3 linked regions of the Homo sapiens genome follow. The protein of the gene in region 3 interacts with the protein of the main gene of each other region in a biochemical or structural test. Each region holds a gene or a part of one and is shown on either strand. Other genes may lie near its edges. The genes, in order: LEP, KLK13 and A2M.

Evidence for each region.
Region 1: the proteins of A2M (region 3) and LEP form a complex in vitro, tested with the Homo sapiens proteins (one study listed by BioGRID).
Region 2: the proteins of A2M (region 3) and KLK13 form a complex in vitro, tested with the Homo sapiens proteins (one study listed by BioGRID).

The regions. Positions count from the first base shown.
Region 1 is NC_000007.14:128,244,188-128,247,842, reverse strand, and holds part of LEP (leptin precursor), read right to left. Parts: intron 1-3,655. UniProt on the Homo sapiens protein: Key player in the regulation of energy balance and body weight control. Once released into the circulation, has central and peripheral effects by binding LEPR, found in many tissues, which results in the activation of several major signaling pathways.
Region 2 is NC_000019.10:51,055,046-51,058,684, forward strand, and holds the end of KLK13 (kallikrein-13 isoform 1 precursor), read right to left. Parts: intron 3,630-3,639; coding exon 3,493-3,629; intron 1,731-3,492; coding exon 1,542-1,730; 3' UTR 581-1,541; downstream 1-580.
Region 3 is NC_000012.12:9,102,358-9,106,012, forward strand, and holds part of A2M (alpha-2-macroglobulin isoform a precursor), read right to left. Parts: intron 2,044-3,655; coding exon 1,882-2,043; intron 1-1,881. UniProt on the Homo sapiens protein: Is able to inhibit all four classes of proteinases by a unique 'trapping' mechanism. This protein has a peptide stretch, called the 'bait region' which contains specific cleavage sites for different proteinases.

The sequences.
Region 1 (3,655 bases), on a different chromosome or scaffold from region 3:
TTTTCCTGGCTATCAGATGGGGATGATATGAATCATAATGCCACCTGTCGATGTTATGTGGCTGAAATGAGATAAAGCATGTAAAGTGCCAACTCCTTGCCTGGCACGTAGCCAACCCCAATGCCTTAGCTGTTATCACCATTATTTCCAGCAGGGGAATCAGGGAGGCATCATGGAGGAGATGGCATTTGATAAGGGACCTGAGAATGGGTAGGAATTGAGTTTGTGAAGGTGGAGGAGAGGGCAGCCCTGGCAGAGGTGGAAGAACACAGGTGGGTTTAGGAGATGGTGGCTTCCAGCTGACACCAGGGTGAGGAGCCGGGGAGGGCTTGGGCTGGAATCGCAGGGGCAGTGAGCACCAGGAAGGGAGGCAAAGCTTTCCCTTCTGCACCCTGAGGAGCAAATGTTTTCAGCCTGGCTGACTAGAAGGATGGAGATGGAAACTAGGAGAGACATGAGGAGAGATTTTGGAAAGAGGTGGTTGGGCTCCTGCTGATGTCCTAGTACTGGCTGGACATGCTGGTGAGCCTGCCCAGCTGCCGCTTGGAATTGGAAGTCTGAGCTCAGAGACAAAGGGCTGCAAATGTAGGACCCAGGGGCCCGCTGCAGCTGTGGCAGGAGAGCATGGGGAGAGCATGGGTTGGGGTGGAAGAAAGGCCGCGATCAGCTGTCTGCCTGAGCTGCAAAACCTCTCTCCAGAAGTTTCCAAAGCAGTTTTGAACATTTAGGAGCTGCCATTTTCTTAGAGTTAAAAGATGAGCTGCTGAAATGTTGATACAGCATCATTCTTTCCTCTGAGTGCTACTGAAGCAGCTCCTGGAGAGGAGAGGGGTCTCTAGGAAGATGGTGGGCTCACAGTGGGCTGTATGCTCATTTGGGACGCAGCCTGCACTCTGCTGTCTCCCTCATGGCCCACTTCTCTCTGCACTCCCTGGGCTGCCCTCTCCACAGGCTGCCTTCCTTCTCCTTTAATCAAGGCCTGGCTGCCCCATCTTCTACCCTCATCCCTTGCCATGGGTACCCTGGAGAAGAAATGAGAAGAGTAGAATGTGGAGCCCCTGGAGCTGCACAGATGAAATGTGGCTGGGTGTGGTGGCTCAGCCTATAATCCCAGGGCTTTGGGAGGCCAAGGCAGGAGGATCGCTTGAGCCCAGGAGTTCAAGACCAGCCTGGGCGACACAGCAAGACCCCATCTCTAAAAAAAATAAAAATAAAAATAAAAATAGCTGAGTGTGGTGGCAAACGCTTGTGGTCCCAGCTACTTGGGAGGCCAAGGTGGGAGGTTTGCCTGAGCCCAGGATGTCGAGGCTGCAGTGAGGTATGATCACACAGTGCACTCCAGCCTGTGTGACACAGCAAGACCCCATCTCTTAAAAACAAAAGCCAAAAAAGATAATGAAACAATCTCAGTAAACAGGGCAGCAAGAGAGGCTTATATAATGTGCCATCCACCCCACCACAAATTCTGCTGTCTACCTCCACCTGGGTCCTCTGCACCAGCCTCACTGTTACTTATCCTCAGGTGGACCCCACCCCCATCCTCACTTGGCAGTTGTGTGCAGGGCCCGCACCCCACCCTCCACCTCCTACCTCCCTAAGAAGCTGGTGGCCTCTAGACTTGAGCTCCATCACCTTCCCACCATTGCAGGGGACAAGGCAGATGGAGGCAGACCCTCCATCCTGGGGACCTCAATGTCAAAGTGGGAGTTAGGATGGGCAGAGATGTGTGCTCCTCTTTATTTTTTTTATTTTTTTATTTTTTTATTTTTTTTTTGACGGAGTCTTGCTCTGTTGCCCAGGCTAGAGTGCAGTGGCGTGACCTCGGCTCACTGCAACCTCCGCCTCCCGGGTTCAAGCGATTCTCCTGCCTCAGCCTCCTCAGCCTCCCGGGTAGCTGGAAATACAGGCGCCCACCACCGCACCTGGCTAATTTTTGTATTTTTAGTAGAGACGAGGCTTCACCATCTTGGCCAGGCTGGTCTCAAACTCCTGACCTCGTGATCCACCCGCCTCGGCCTCCCAAAATGCTGGGATTACAGGCATGAGCCACCGAGCCTGGCCCATCTGCTGCTCTTTAGATCCAGGCTGGAGGGCCTCCTGAGCCAAGATTAGGCCTGCCCACAGCCCTCTGATGACATCAATGGGGAGAACAAAGCGAGTCTTTTGTATGCTACTGTGAATTAAATTCAGGTAACATGGTATTTGCTATTAATTATGAGGGAAAAGCTTTAGCTAGTCTGAGTCCTCTCCCTATACACATTCTCCTGTGGGATCCCCTCCTGTTCTTCCCTCCCACCCTTCCTTCCTTCCTTTCTTCATAACTCCAAGTTGGAAGGGACTTGGGGATGAGAAAAGAACAAAGGAGGAAATAAAGGCAGCGAAGTTTGGATCTTCGTTCTCCAAGTTGCTCAGAATCTAGTGGAACAGACAGGACCTTGAACAACTCATTTTAACACAACCTGGTGGGAGTTATGAGGGAAGAAGCATAGAACCCAAAGAACAAAGGGGAAGAGGGACTCCGGGGATGGGAGGAGAGCTTTGCAAGGGAGGCAGTGTGTGAACTGAGGCCTGAAGGACAGGCGTTCCCCAGGGGAAAGAGGGGAAGCAGGGCATTCCAGGCCAAGCTCCGGAGTTAGGGAAAGCCATAGTTGGTTTGGGAAGATTCAATATGGTAGAGGGGTGGAGTGTGTGAGGCTGGAGAGCTAAAATTTTGCGGGCTTAAGTCTGTTTAGTAGGGACCTCCTGGGAGATCTAACCTACCCAAGAGACACACATACACACACACAGACACACACACACACATACACAACCCTTGATGGCTATGTTTGCATTTACACTCCAGCCCCCTTGGCTACAATTGCCTGGCCAGTGGTAGGCAAGAGACGAAGAGGCTCTTCTCTCCTCCCTTTCCTCCTCCCTTCCTTCTCCTGACCCTGATTGGGTCAATCAACTTCTCTCTTAGGAATTTAGAGTGGGGCTGCAGAGAGTCCAGTTCATCTCTGTTGAGGGCTCAGAAGCTCTAGGGTAGCCACATTTGGCCTCATATGCATGGAACAGCTGAGAGAGACCAGAGCCCACATAGCCACTGAGCCAGAGTATGGTCACCGCCTGTGCTCCTTCCTAGCCTTCTTTGTGGTTCCTGGGTCCTCGTGAGGCCTGGTGGCCCTCCCTGTCCTTAGCCTTCAGGGTGAGATACTCTTTTCTTATACTCACTTGGATAGCTTTCAACTTTCTAAATATATTTTTCATTTGAGACAGATAGATACATGTAAGAGAAATAAGTGTCAAGAAGTAAAATTCACCCTTACCGTGGGTAATGCACTCTTGAGAGTCTCGGCTCTTTTTTCAAATGTTGATCACAATAAACAATTTGAAAAACACAGGGCCAGCGTGAGTGATTTTCTCTTATTTGCAACCAAAAGCCTCATTTGAGAAATCGTGTTAACATATGTAACCAGCAGAGAGGGTGTGAGTACAGGGGTTACATTCTTTCTGTTCATCAGAAAGATCTGATCTCATCAGAGATACAGATAGGTTTCTACTCCTGTTTCAGCTCTAATCTGTGTGTGTGTGTGTGTGTGTGTGTGTGTGTGTGTCAGGGTCTTGCTCTGTCACTCAGGCTGGAGTGCAGTGGTGTGATCAAGGCTCACTGGAC
Region 2 (3,639 bases), on a different chromosome or scaffold from region 3:
CCTCAAACTCCTGGGCTCATGCAATCATCCTGCCTCAGCCTTCTGATTAGCTGGGACTACAGACTTGTGCCACCATGTCCAGCTAATTTTTTAAACTTTTTTGTAGAGATGGGATCTTGCTATGTTGTCCAGGCTGGTCTTGAACTCCTGGTGTCAAGCGATCCTCCCACCTTGGCCTCCCAGTGTTGGTATTACAGGCATGAGCTACCACATATGGCCCTTGTTTCATTTCTTGCTATGGCTTGCAGCACCACCTGACAGCCTATTTCTTTATTCATTGTTATGGAGACTTCTTGAAAAGAATGTAAGTTCTACAAGGGCAGAAGTTTTTATCTGTTTAACTCATTGGTTATCACTTGTCTCTGCAACAGTGCCTGGCTCTTGATAGGTACAAATATTTGTTGAGTAAATAAACTATATTTAACAACACCCAGGAGAGTGCTTGCACATAGTCAACACTGAAGAAATGTCTCCTGAGGAAAATAAATCAGTGCAACACTTTTTTTGGACACTCTGCAAATTCGAAGGGCTGTTATTAACATTCTAAGGTAATATTTTATGGGAACCATGCAAATAATAATAGTGATAAATGCTTGACATTTATTCTTGTAATAATGTTACAATTAAAAAAAATTATGAACCCATTTTACAGATGAGAAAGCACAGAGACTGTGAGTTTTATAACTTGTCCAAAGCAAGGATTTGCACTACATTTTAGGGTCATGCACAAAGATGTAACAGCAAGGGACACTGACCAAGGATGTTCATGGAGGGGATACAAGACGGAATATTTGGTAGACAATAAAGTTCAGGCAAGAAGACCCTTTGGTATACTGAACCCTATAACTCTAGAGACTAGGGTGCCATTGATTCAGAGAGGGAATGTTGGCAGAGGTGGGGTATTGGAAGAATGTGGGATGTAGGTTGGGTTGGGACTTCTGAGACACCCATAACAGTGTGAGAATGAAATATTCTGAGGATCCAATGTTAGCTGTGGTGAGTCACAGAGGTACACAGAATGTTGTCAGGGCAGAAGATTGTGGGCATAAGAGAATATTTTCAGGATGAACTATCATGGGAGTCTAGAGCCTTCTTGAGTGCAAAAAATAGAAGGTCTAGGATACTGGCATTGAATAAATACTTGAAGAGTTAGAGGATGTTGTCAAGGATGGTCCATTTATAGGACATATATTGTTGAGATGGGCTGATGGAAATATTTAAGAATGTGCCACAGACAGAACGTTCAGGTGGTGATCTGGGCTCATAGAAGCCACACTGATGAAGTTGAGAGACCTGGGCCATTGTCTGGGTTGGGACATTCAGGTTGTTGAGATGTTTCAGGGATGCAACATCTGGGAGACTGCAAGCCTGGCAGTGCCTGAATGCTTCTGAAACATGGAATGTTAGCTGAGATTGAGCATTTTTCAGGACATGGATCACTGGTTCAAATGGAACACTGGGAATAAGGAGCAGAGAAGGGCTAAGCAGACCATGTGAGGAAGTCATGGTGACAGGATGGAAGCCGGTACATTTCTCAACTTTTATTGTGGGCCCTTCAACCATTTTTGCTGCTGGGTTTCATATTTTCGGATTGTTTCACGGATCCACAGGACGTATCTTGAGACACGGGTGTAGACACCAGGCCGGTCAGGTTGCCCACATGGGAAGTCTCCCCAGGAGACGATGCCATACAGTGTTCTGTTACAGACCAGGGGGCCCCCAGAGTCACCCTGAGTTGGGGAAAGAAAGAGAGAGAGAGGTGGGTCCTTGCTGGGGCTAAACAAGGCAGGGACAGGGAGGTGTGGGGAGAGAGTGAAAGATGGAGAGAGACACACACAGAGAAGGAGACTCAGAGAGGCAGAGTCAGACACACACAGTGTGAGAGAAAGCAATGAAGACAGTGAGAAACAGACAAGAAGACAAACACAGAGGGACAGACAGCAAGAGACAGAAATAGGGACAGAAAGACAGAGATAGGCCCAGAGAAAGAGAGACACAGAGAAATTTCTGTGTTTTTCTCTGTTCCTCAGTTTCATTAAAATGGTAACAACTTACTTCATACCCATTTTTGTTTCCCTGGTACTAAATCACCCCCTGCCCCACACCAGCTGACCCTGCTCCTATTTAAGGCTCATTTGTGTCTCTCACTATTGAGTGAACCCATTCATATCTGGGCAGGGTATGCAACACACGTGTAAGTCTATTTCTCTTCCTGGGCCCAAGGCAGACATCACTAATCGATCAAGGCACATATCATTAATATAGTATCATACTCTTTCTCACTGAATCCAATCTCAACTTCTTTATTGATGAAGGCTATTTTTTGCTCATGTAGTATCCATTTCCTCTTATTTTTAAAAAATTAAACATTCATTTTTAAATTTTTATTTATTTATTTATTAGAGACAGTGTCTTGCTCTATTTATTTCTTTTTGTTTTAGAGACAGGGCCTTGCTCTATCACCCAGGCTGGAGTGCAGTGGCATGATCATACCTCACTGCAGCCTTGAACTCCTGGGTTCAAATAGTCCTTCTGCCTCAGCCTCCCGAGTAACTAGGACTGCAGTTGTACTCCACCACACCTGGCTAATTTAAAAACTTTTTTTTCTTTTTGTAGAGACAGAGTCTCACTATGTTGCCCAGGCTGGTCTCAAACTCCTGGGCTCAAGTAATCCTCTCACCTCAGCCTCCCAAAGTGCTGGGATTACAGGCATGAACTACTGTACTTGGCCATTTCCCCTTATTTTGGTAACAGCCTCTCCTGATTTTTTCATTTGGGGAACTGCCCTTCTCCACTTCCAATCCATGCAGTTTGTCCCTGCCCCTCTCCAGCACCCACAGTTAACTATGTGACTCAGGCTTGGCCCATCAGAGAATCCCACAGCTCTGGTGGAGTGATGGCTCAAGACACATGACTTAGGTCAGCCTAGTGAGAATCATGCTTAAGACTTTTGTGTGAACTATTGGAAAAGAGAGGTTCTCTTTCTAATAGGGTTGCCTAGAGGGTAGGATGTAAGCTCAAAGCTGCTGGGGCCATCTTGTCATGGGAAGAATCTAACCGAGAATGAAGCCAAAACAGAATAAAGAAGAGCTGAGAGTTAAAAGAAAGACAGAATTCCAAACACACAATTTGCATACCTGGATCCATCTGTGCCTAAAGCCAGACAACCTGGATTTTCAGTTACAAAAGCCTGCATTTTGTTTAAGCCAGTTTGAGTTGGTTGTCTATCACTCACAAGTGAAAGAATACCAACCTTTATGCATCTCAACACAGGGATCTTGGCAGCCACTCAGTCAAAGCTGGGGCTTATGATGAATTATTCCTGCCATCCCTGGGTACCCCTTTTTGTCTTGACCTCCTATGTGAGGGGACATTGTATCTTATAAAGATTGGTTCCCCTAAGGCTGGAAACAAAGCTTTTTCCCCAGCATCTGTCACTTCCATTCTGGCTTTCTATCCTGTCCAAGGCACCCACCAGCCTCCCGGCCTCACCTCACAGGAGTCTTTGCCACCCTCTTTTGTGCCGGCACACAACATGTTGTCAGTGATCTTTCCTGGGTAGACTTGACGACACTCCTCATCTGAGCGAAGTTGGATGTTGGCACATTGTAGAGTTTTGGGGTAATTCACTGGGGAGAA
Region 3 (3,655 bases):
GTGCATGCCACCCCACCCAGCTAATTTTTTGTATATTTTGTAGAGACAGGGTTTCACCACGTTGCCTAGGCTCGTCTCGATCTCCTGGCCTCACGCAATCCACCCACCTCAGCCTCCCAAAGTGCTGGGATTACAGGCGTGAGCTACCGTGCCTGGCCTAGGCTGACTATTTTTAATGCTCCCTGCAATCTGGATTCTAATACCTCAGAGGCCCTATTTGGGTTATATTTCCAACTTTTCTTCCTGTAGAAGTTATTCCTTAGCTCCTTTCAGGCTTCCTCTACCTTCATCCCCAGCTCCCAATAGCACTAGTGAATCCTTGAGCAAAACATTTTGTTCATATCTTAATGTATATTTTGGTGACAACACATATATGATCACCCCAAACAGGGAACAGGTAGAAATAATAATTTCATTGTCAAGACTAGCACAGTGCTGGCACGTGGAAAGCATTCAAGACACTTTTTGAAATGAGTAAACATTCAAATTAGAGGGAGGTGCTTTTATGCCATCTATTAAAGCTAAATAAATAAAATGTATTATTTATTTCTCTATAACAAGGTAAAACTCTAAAGAGGCAGGCGTTTTCCATTACCATGATTATGTAATATATATTAAATATGTATTGTATATCCATGTATCTATAGACATGTCTACATCTCTCTTGATGAATAGAGGACTGCATGCTATACCGAATAACTTATATTGGTATGAACAGGTCATCTGGAGAAAATTAGAATAGCAAGACAAAATAAAGTAAGGTAATAATTTTTGGAGTATATATATTTAAAACTAAATGCTAATTATGTTAGAATTGGCTTTTATAGTAAAAGTATCTAACAGTTAAAGGGGGCTTACTAAGTGATTCAACATGTATGATTTCACTTAATCTTCACAACCACCCCAAGAGTCAGGTGTTAGTATTGCAATCATTTTACAGATAAGGAAATGAAGCACAGAGGTTTTAGTTAATTCCTTAAAATAGGGTTGAGCCAGTATTTTTAACCACTTTATCTGATTCAGATTCTGGAATTCACACTTTTCAAAAAAGTTATTATAAACACACACACACACACAACATAAAATTACCATCTTCATTATTCTTTAGTGTACAGTTTGGTAGTATTAAGTATATCTGTTGTGCAACAGATCTCCAGAACTTTTCATCTTGTAAAACTAAACCTGAATACCAATAAGAGGAATTCCCCATTTCTCTCTTTCCCTAGCCCTTGGCAACCACCATCCTGTTTTCTGTTTCTATGACTTTGACTACTTTAGAAACCCCATGTACGTGAATCATACAGTATTGGTCTTTTTGTGACTAGCTTATTTCACTTACCATAACGTCCTCAAGGATCATTCATGCTGTAGCATGTGACAGGATTTTCTTCCCTTCTCAGGCTGCATAATATTCTGTTGTATTTATATACCACATTTTGTTTACCTGTTCATCCCTTGATGGACATTTGGGTAGCCTCGATCTCTCAGCTATTGTGAATAGTGCGGCTATGAACACGGGTGTGCAAATAGCTCTTTGAGACCCCGTTTTCGATTCTTTTGAATATATGTCCAGAAGTAGGATTACTGGATCATTTGGTAATTCTATTTTTTAATTTTTTCAGGAACTACTATACTGTTTTTCATAGTGGCTCCGCCATTTTACGTTCCCAGCAACACTGCTAAAGTCTAACCCGCACTTTTAATCACAATATACTGCCTTCTTTTCATAAACTTTAAAAAAGTTAACCTTCAATCGGTTTCTAATTGCTAGTTTTTTTCTCTCCATAGAACTAGACACAGTTTGGAAATTTTCTCACCCTTAGGTTGCAACCTTGTTTCCAAGGCTACTTCATGTCATTGGTAATTTCTTTCCAAACTTACCCTAACAGTAAGAGAGGTACCCATAACATTGGTGGTGTTGATAGAGAACTGTACAAGGCCATGCTCATCCGTGGTAGCATTGGAGTAATAGTTTGCTTCATTTCCTCTGATGAATATGACTTTATTTGGTATAGGGACGCCTTTCCCATCTACTAGGCGCACCTGAAGATTAAAAGCTGTGGATTAGTTATATTGGTAATAACTAATAGGCACCAAACATATTCATTTATCACATTTTTTAGTGCCTCCTCTATGTTGAACATGGTTCCAGGCACTGAGGACACAGCAGTGAAAAAAAACGAAGTTTCTTCCATCACAGAGCTTACTGTCTAGTGAAAGAGATAGATGCTAAATAAATATATACATAACATACACTAATTTAGTAGTAATCAATCCTAAGAAGAAAAACAGAGCAGTGTGAAGGGATAGAGAGTGATAGGGATAATAACAAGAGTGACCTGAAAAATGTCTTCTAGATATTTTGGAAGTGCTGTGTATTATTATATATAACTCTTAGAGAGTCACAGAGCACTAGAGTAATATGATAATGAAATATTTTAATCTATTAATCTATTAACTAAATTTATTTGTGCCCCAAACACCTATTTTGGAGTGGACCATTAACTTCCTATAGATTAGTGTCTGAAGTCTCATAAGTGCACAAGTAAACAATTGCCAATACATTGTCCTGTGTGTTTCTCCAGTTGCCTTAGACATGGTCTCTGCTTCTCAACCTAGATCTTCAGCCTTTTGGAAGGTAGGCAGATTTTATGACACACTTCCCATGTGAAAAATATAAAATTGAAAAGAGGCACACAGTATTAAATAAGTTGCCAAATCTAATTTACTGCTAATATTGTATTGGCAGTTGAGTAGTCCAGTTCAGATTGTAAAGGTGGCAATTCTTTTTCAGTATAAGCTACAGTTGGTAGCAGGAAGAACAATAGGCTGACCCCCATCAGTACTCATAATTGATTTACAAAATCTAAGTTTGCCAGTGAAATGTTGGCTGCATGTACAAAGACAAGAATAGGCACATAATTCTGATTTTCTTCTAGCTAGAGAGTCTTATGACAAATAGGATATTTAACAGCAATAAAATGTACTTACAAAGTACACTATCTTTCTGAGAAATTTACAAATGAGCTACACTTTCATTTTAGGAAGTTGAATACATTTTGGTGTCATGACATAACCAAGCCTTCTAGAATGTACTCCACTTTGTTGAGTCTATGCCTCTTTTACACCCTTCATAGCTGAAATCCTGTAACATTTACATTAAGAAAATGATACACAGTAAATACACATTGAGGCACATGTAACTGTGATCTCAGACTTCTAGAGTCATAAAGATCCATTTGCACATCTGCTGACAACAGAAAAATTGTAAGAGAAGATTTTTTTGGTAGATAACATGAAAATTCATAATTCAAAAATCTGAGAACCTTAAATAGCAGTGTTTTACCCCATGTTCACTGTTTTAGAAATATACTTGTTATAGAAAAATAGTGTAAATATACTATCCATGAAATAAACATTATTGTAGAATCTTTAATACTTCAAAATAAAAATTAAAACCACCTACCCACCTGTTTCCATACAAAGTTAGTGTTAGCATCGTAATGAAACTGGTCAGCATGAATTTTGAGATTCTTGTGAGAAAATGTCATAAAAACCTGAGACTGCCTGGTAAACCATGAGAAGGAGATTGAGTGACTTGTACAATGCTGTTTCAAAAGAAGGGGGGAAAACTCTACTAATTTTAATAAGGCCT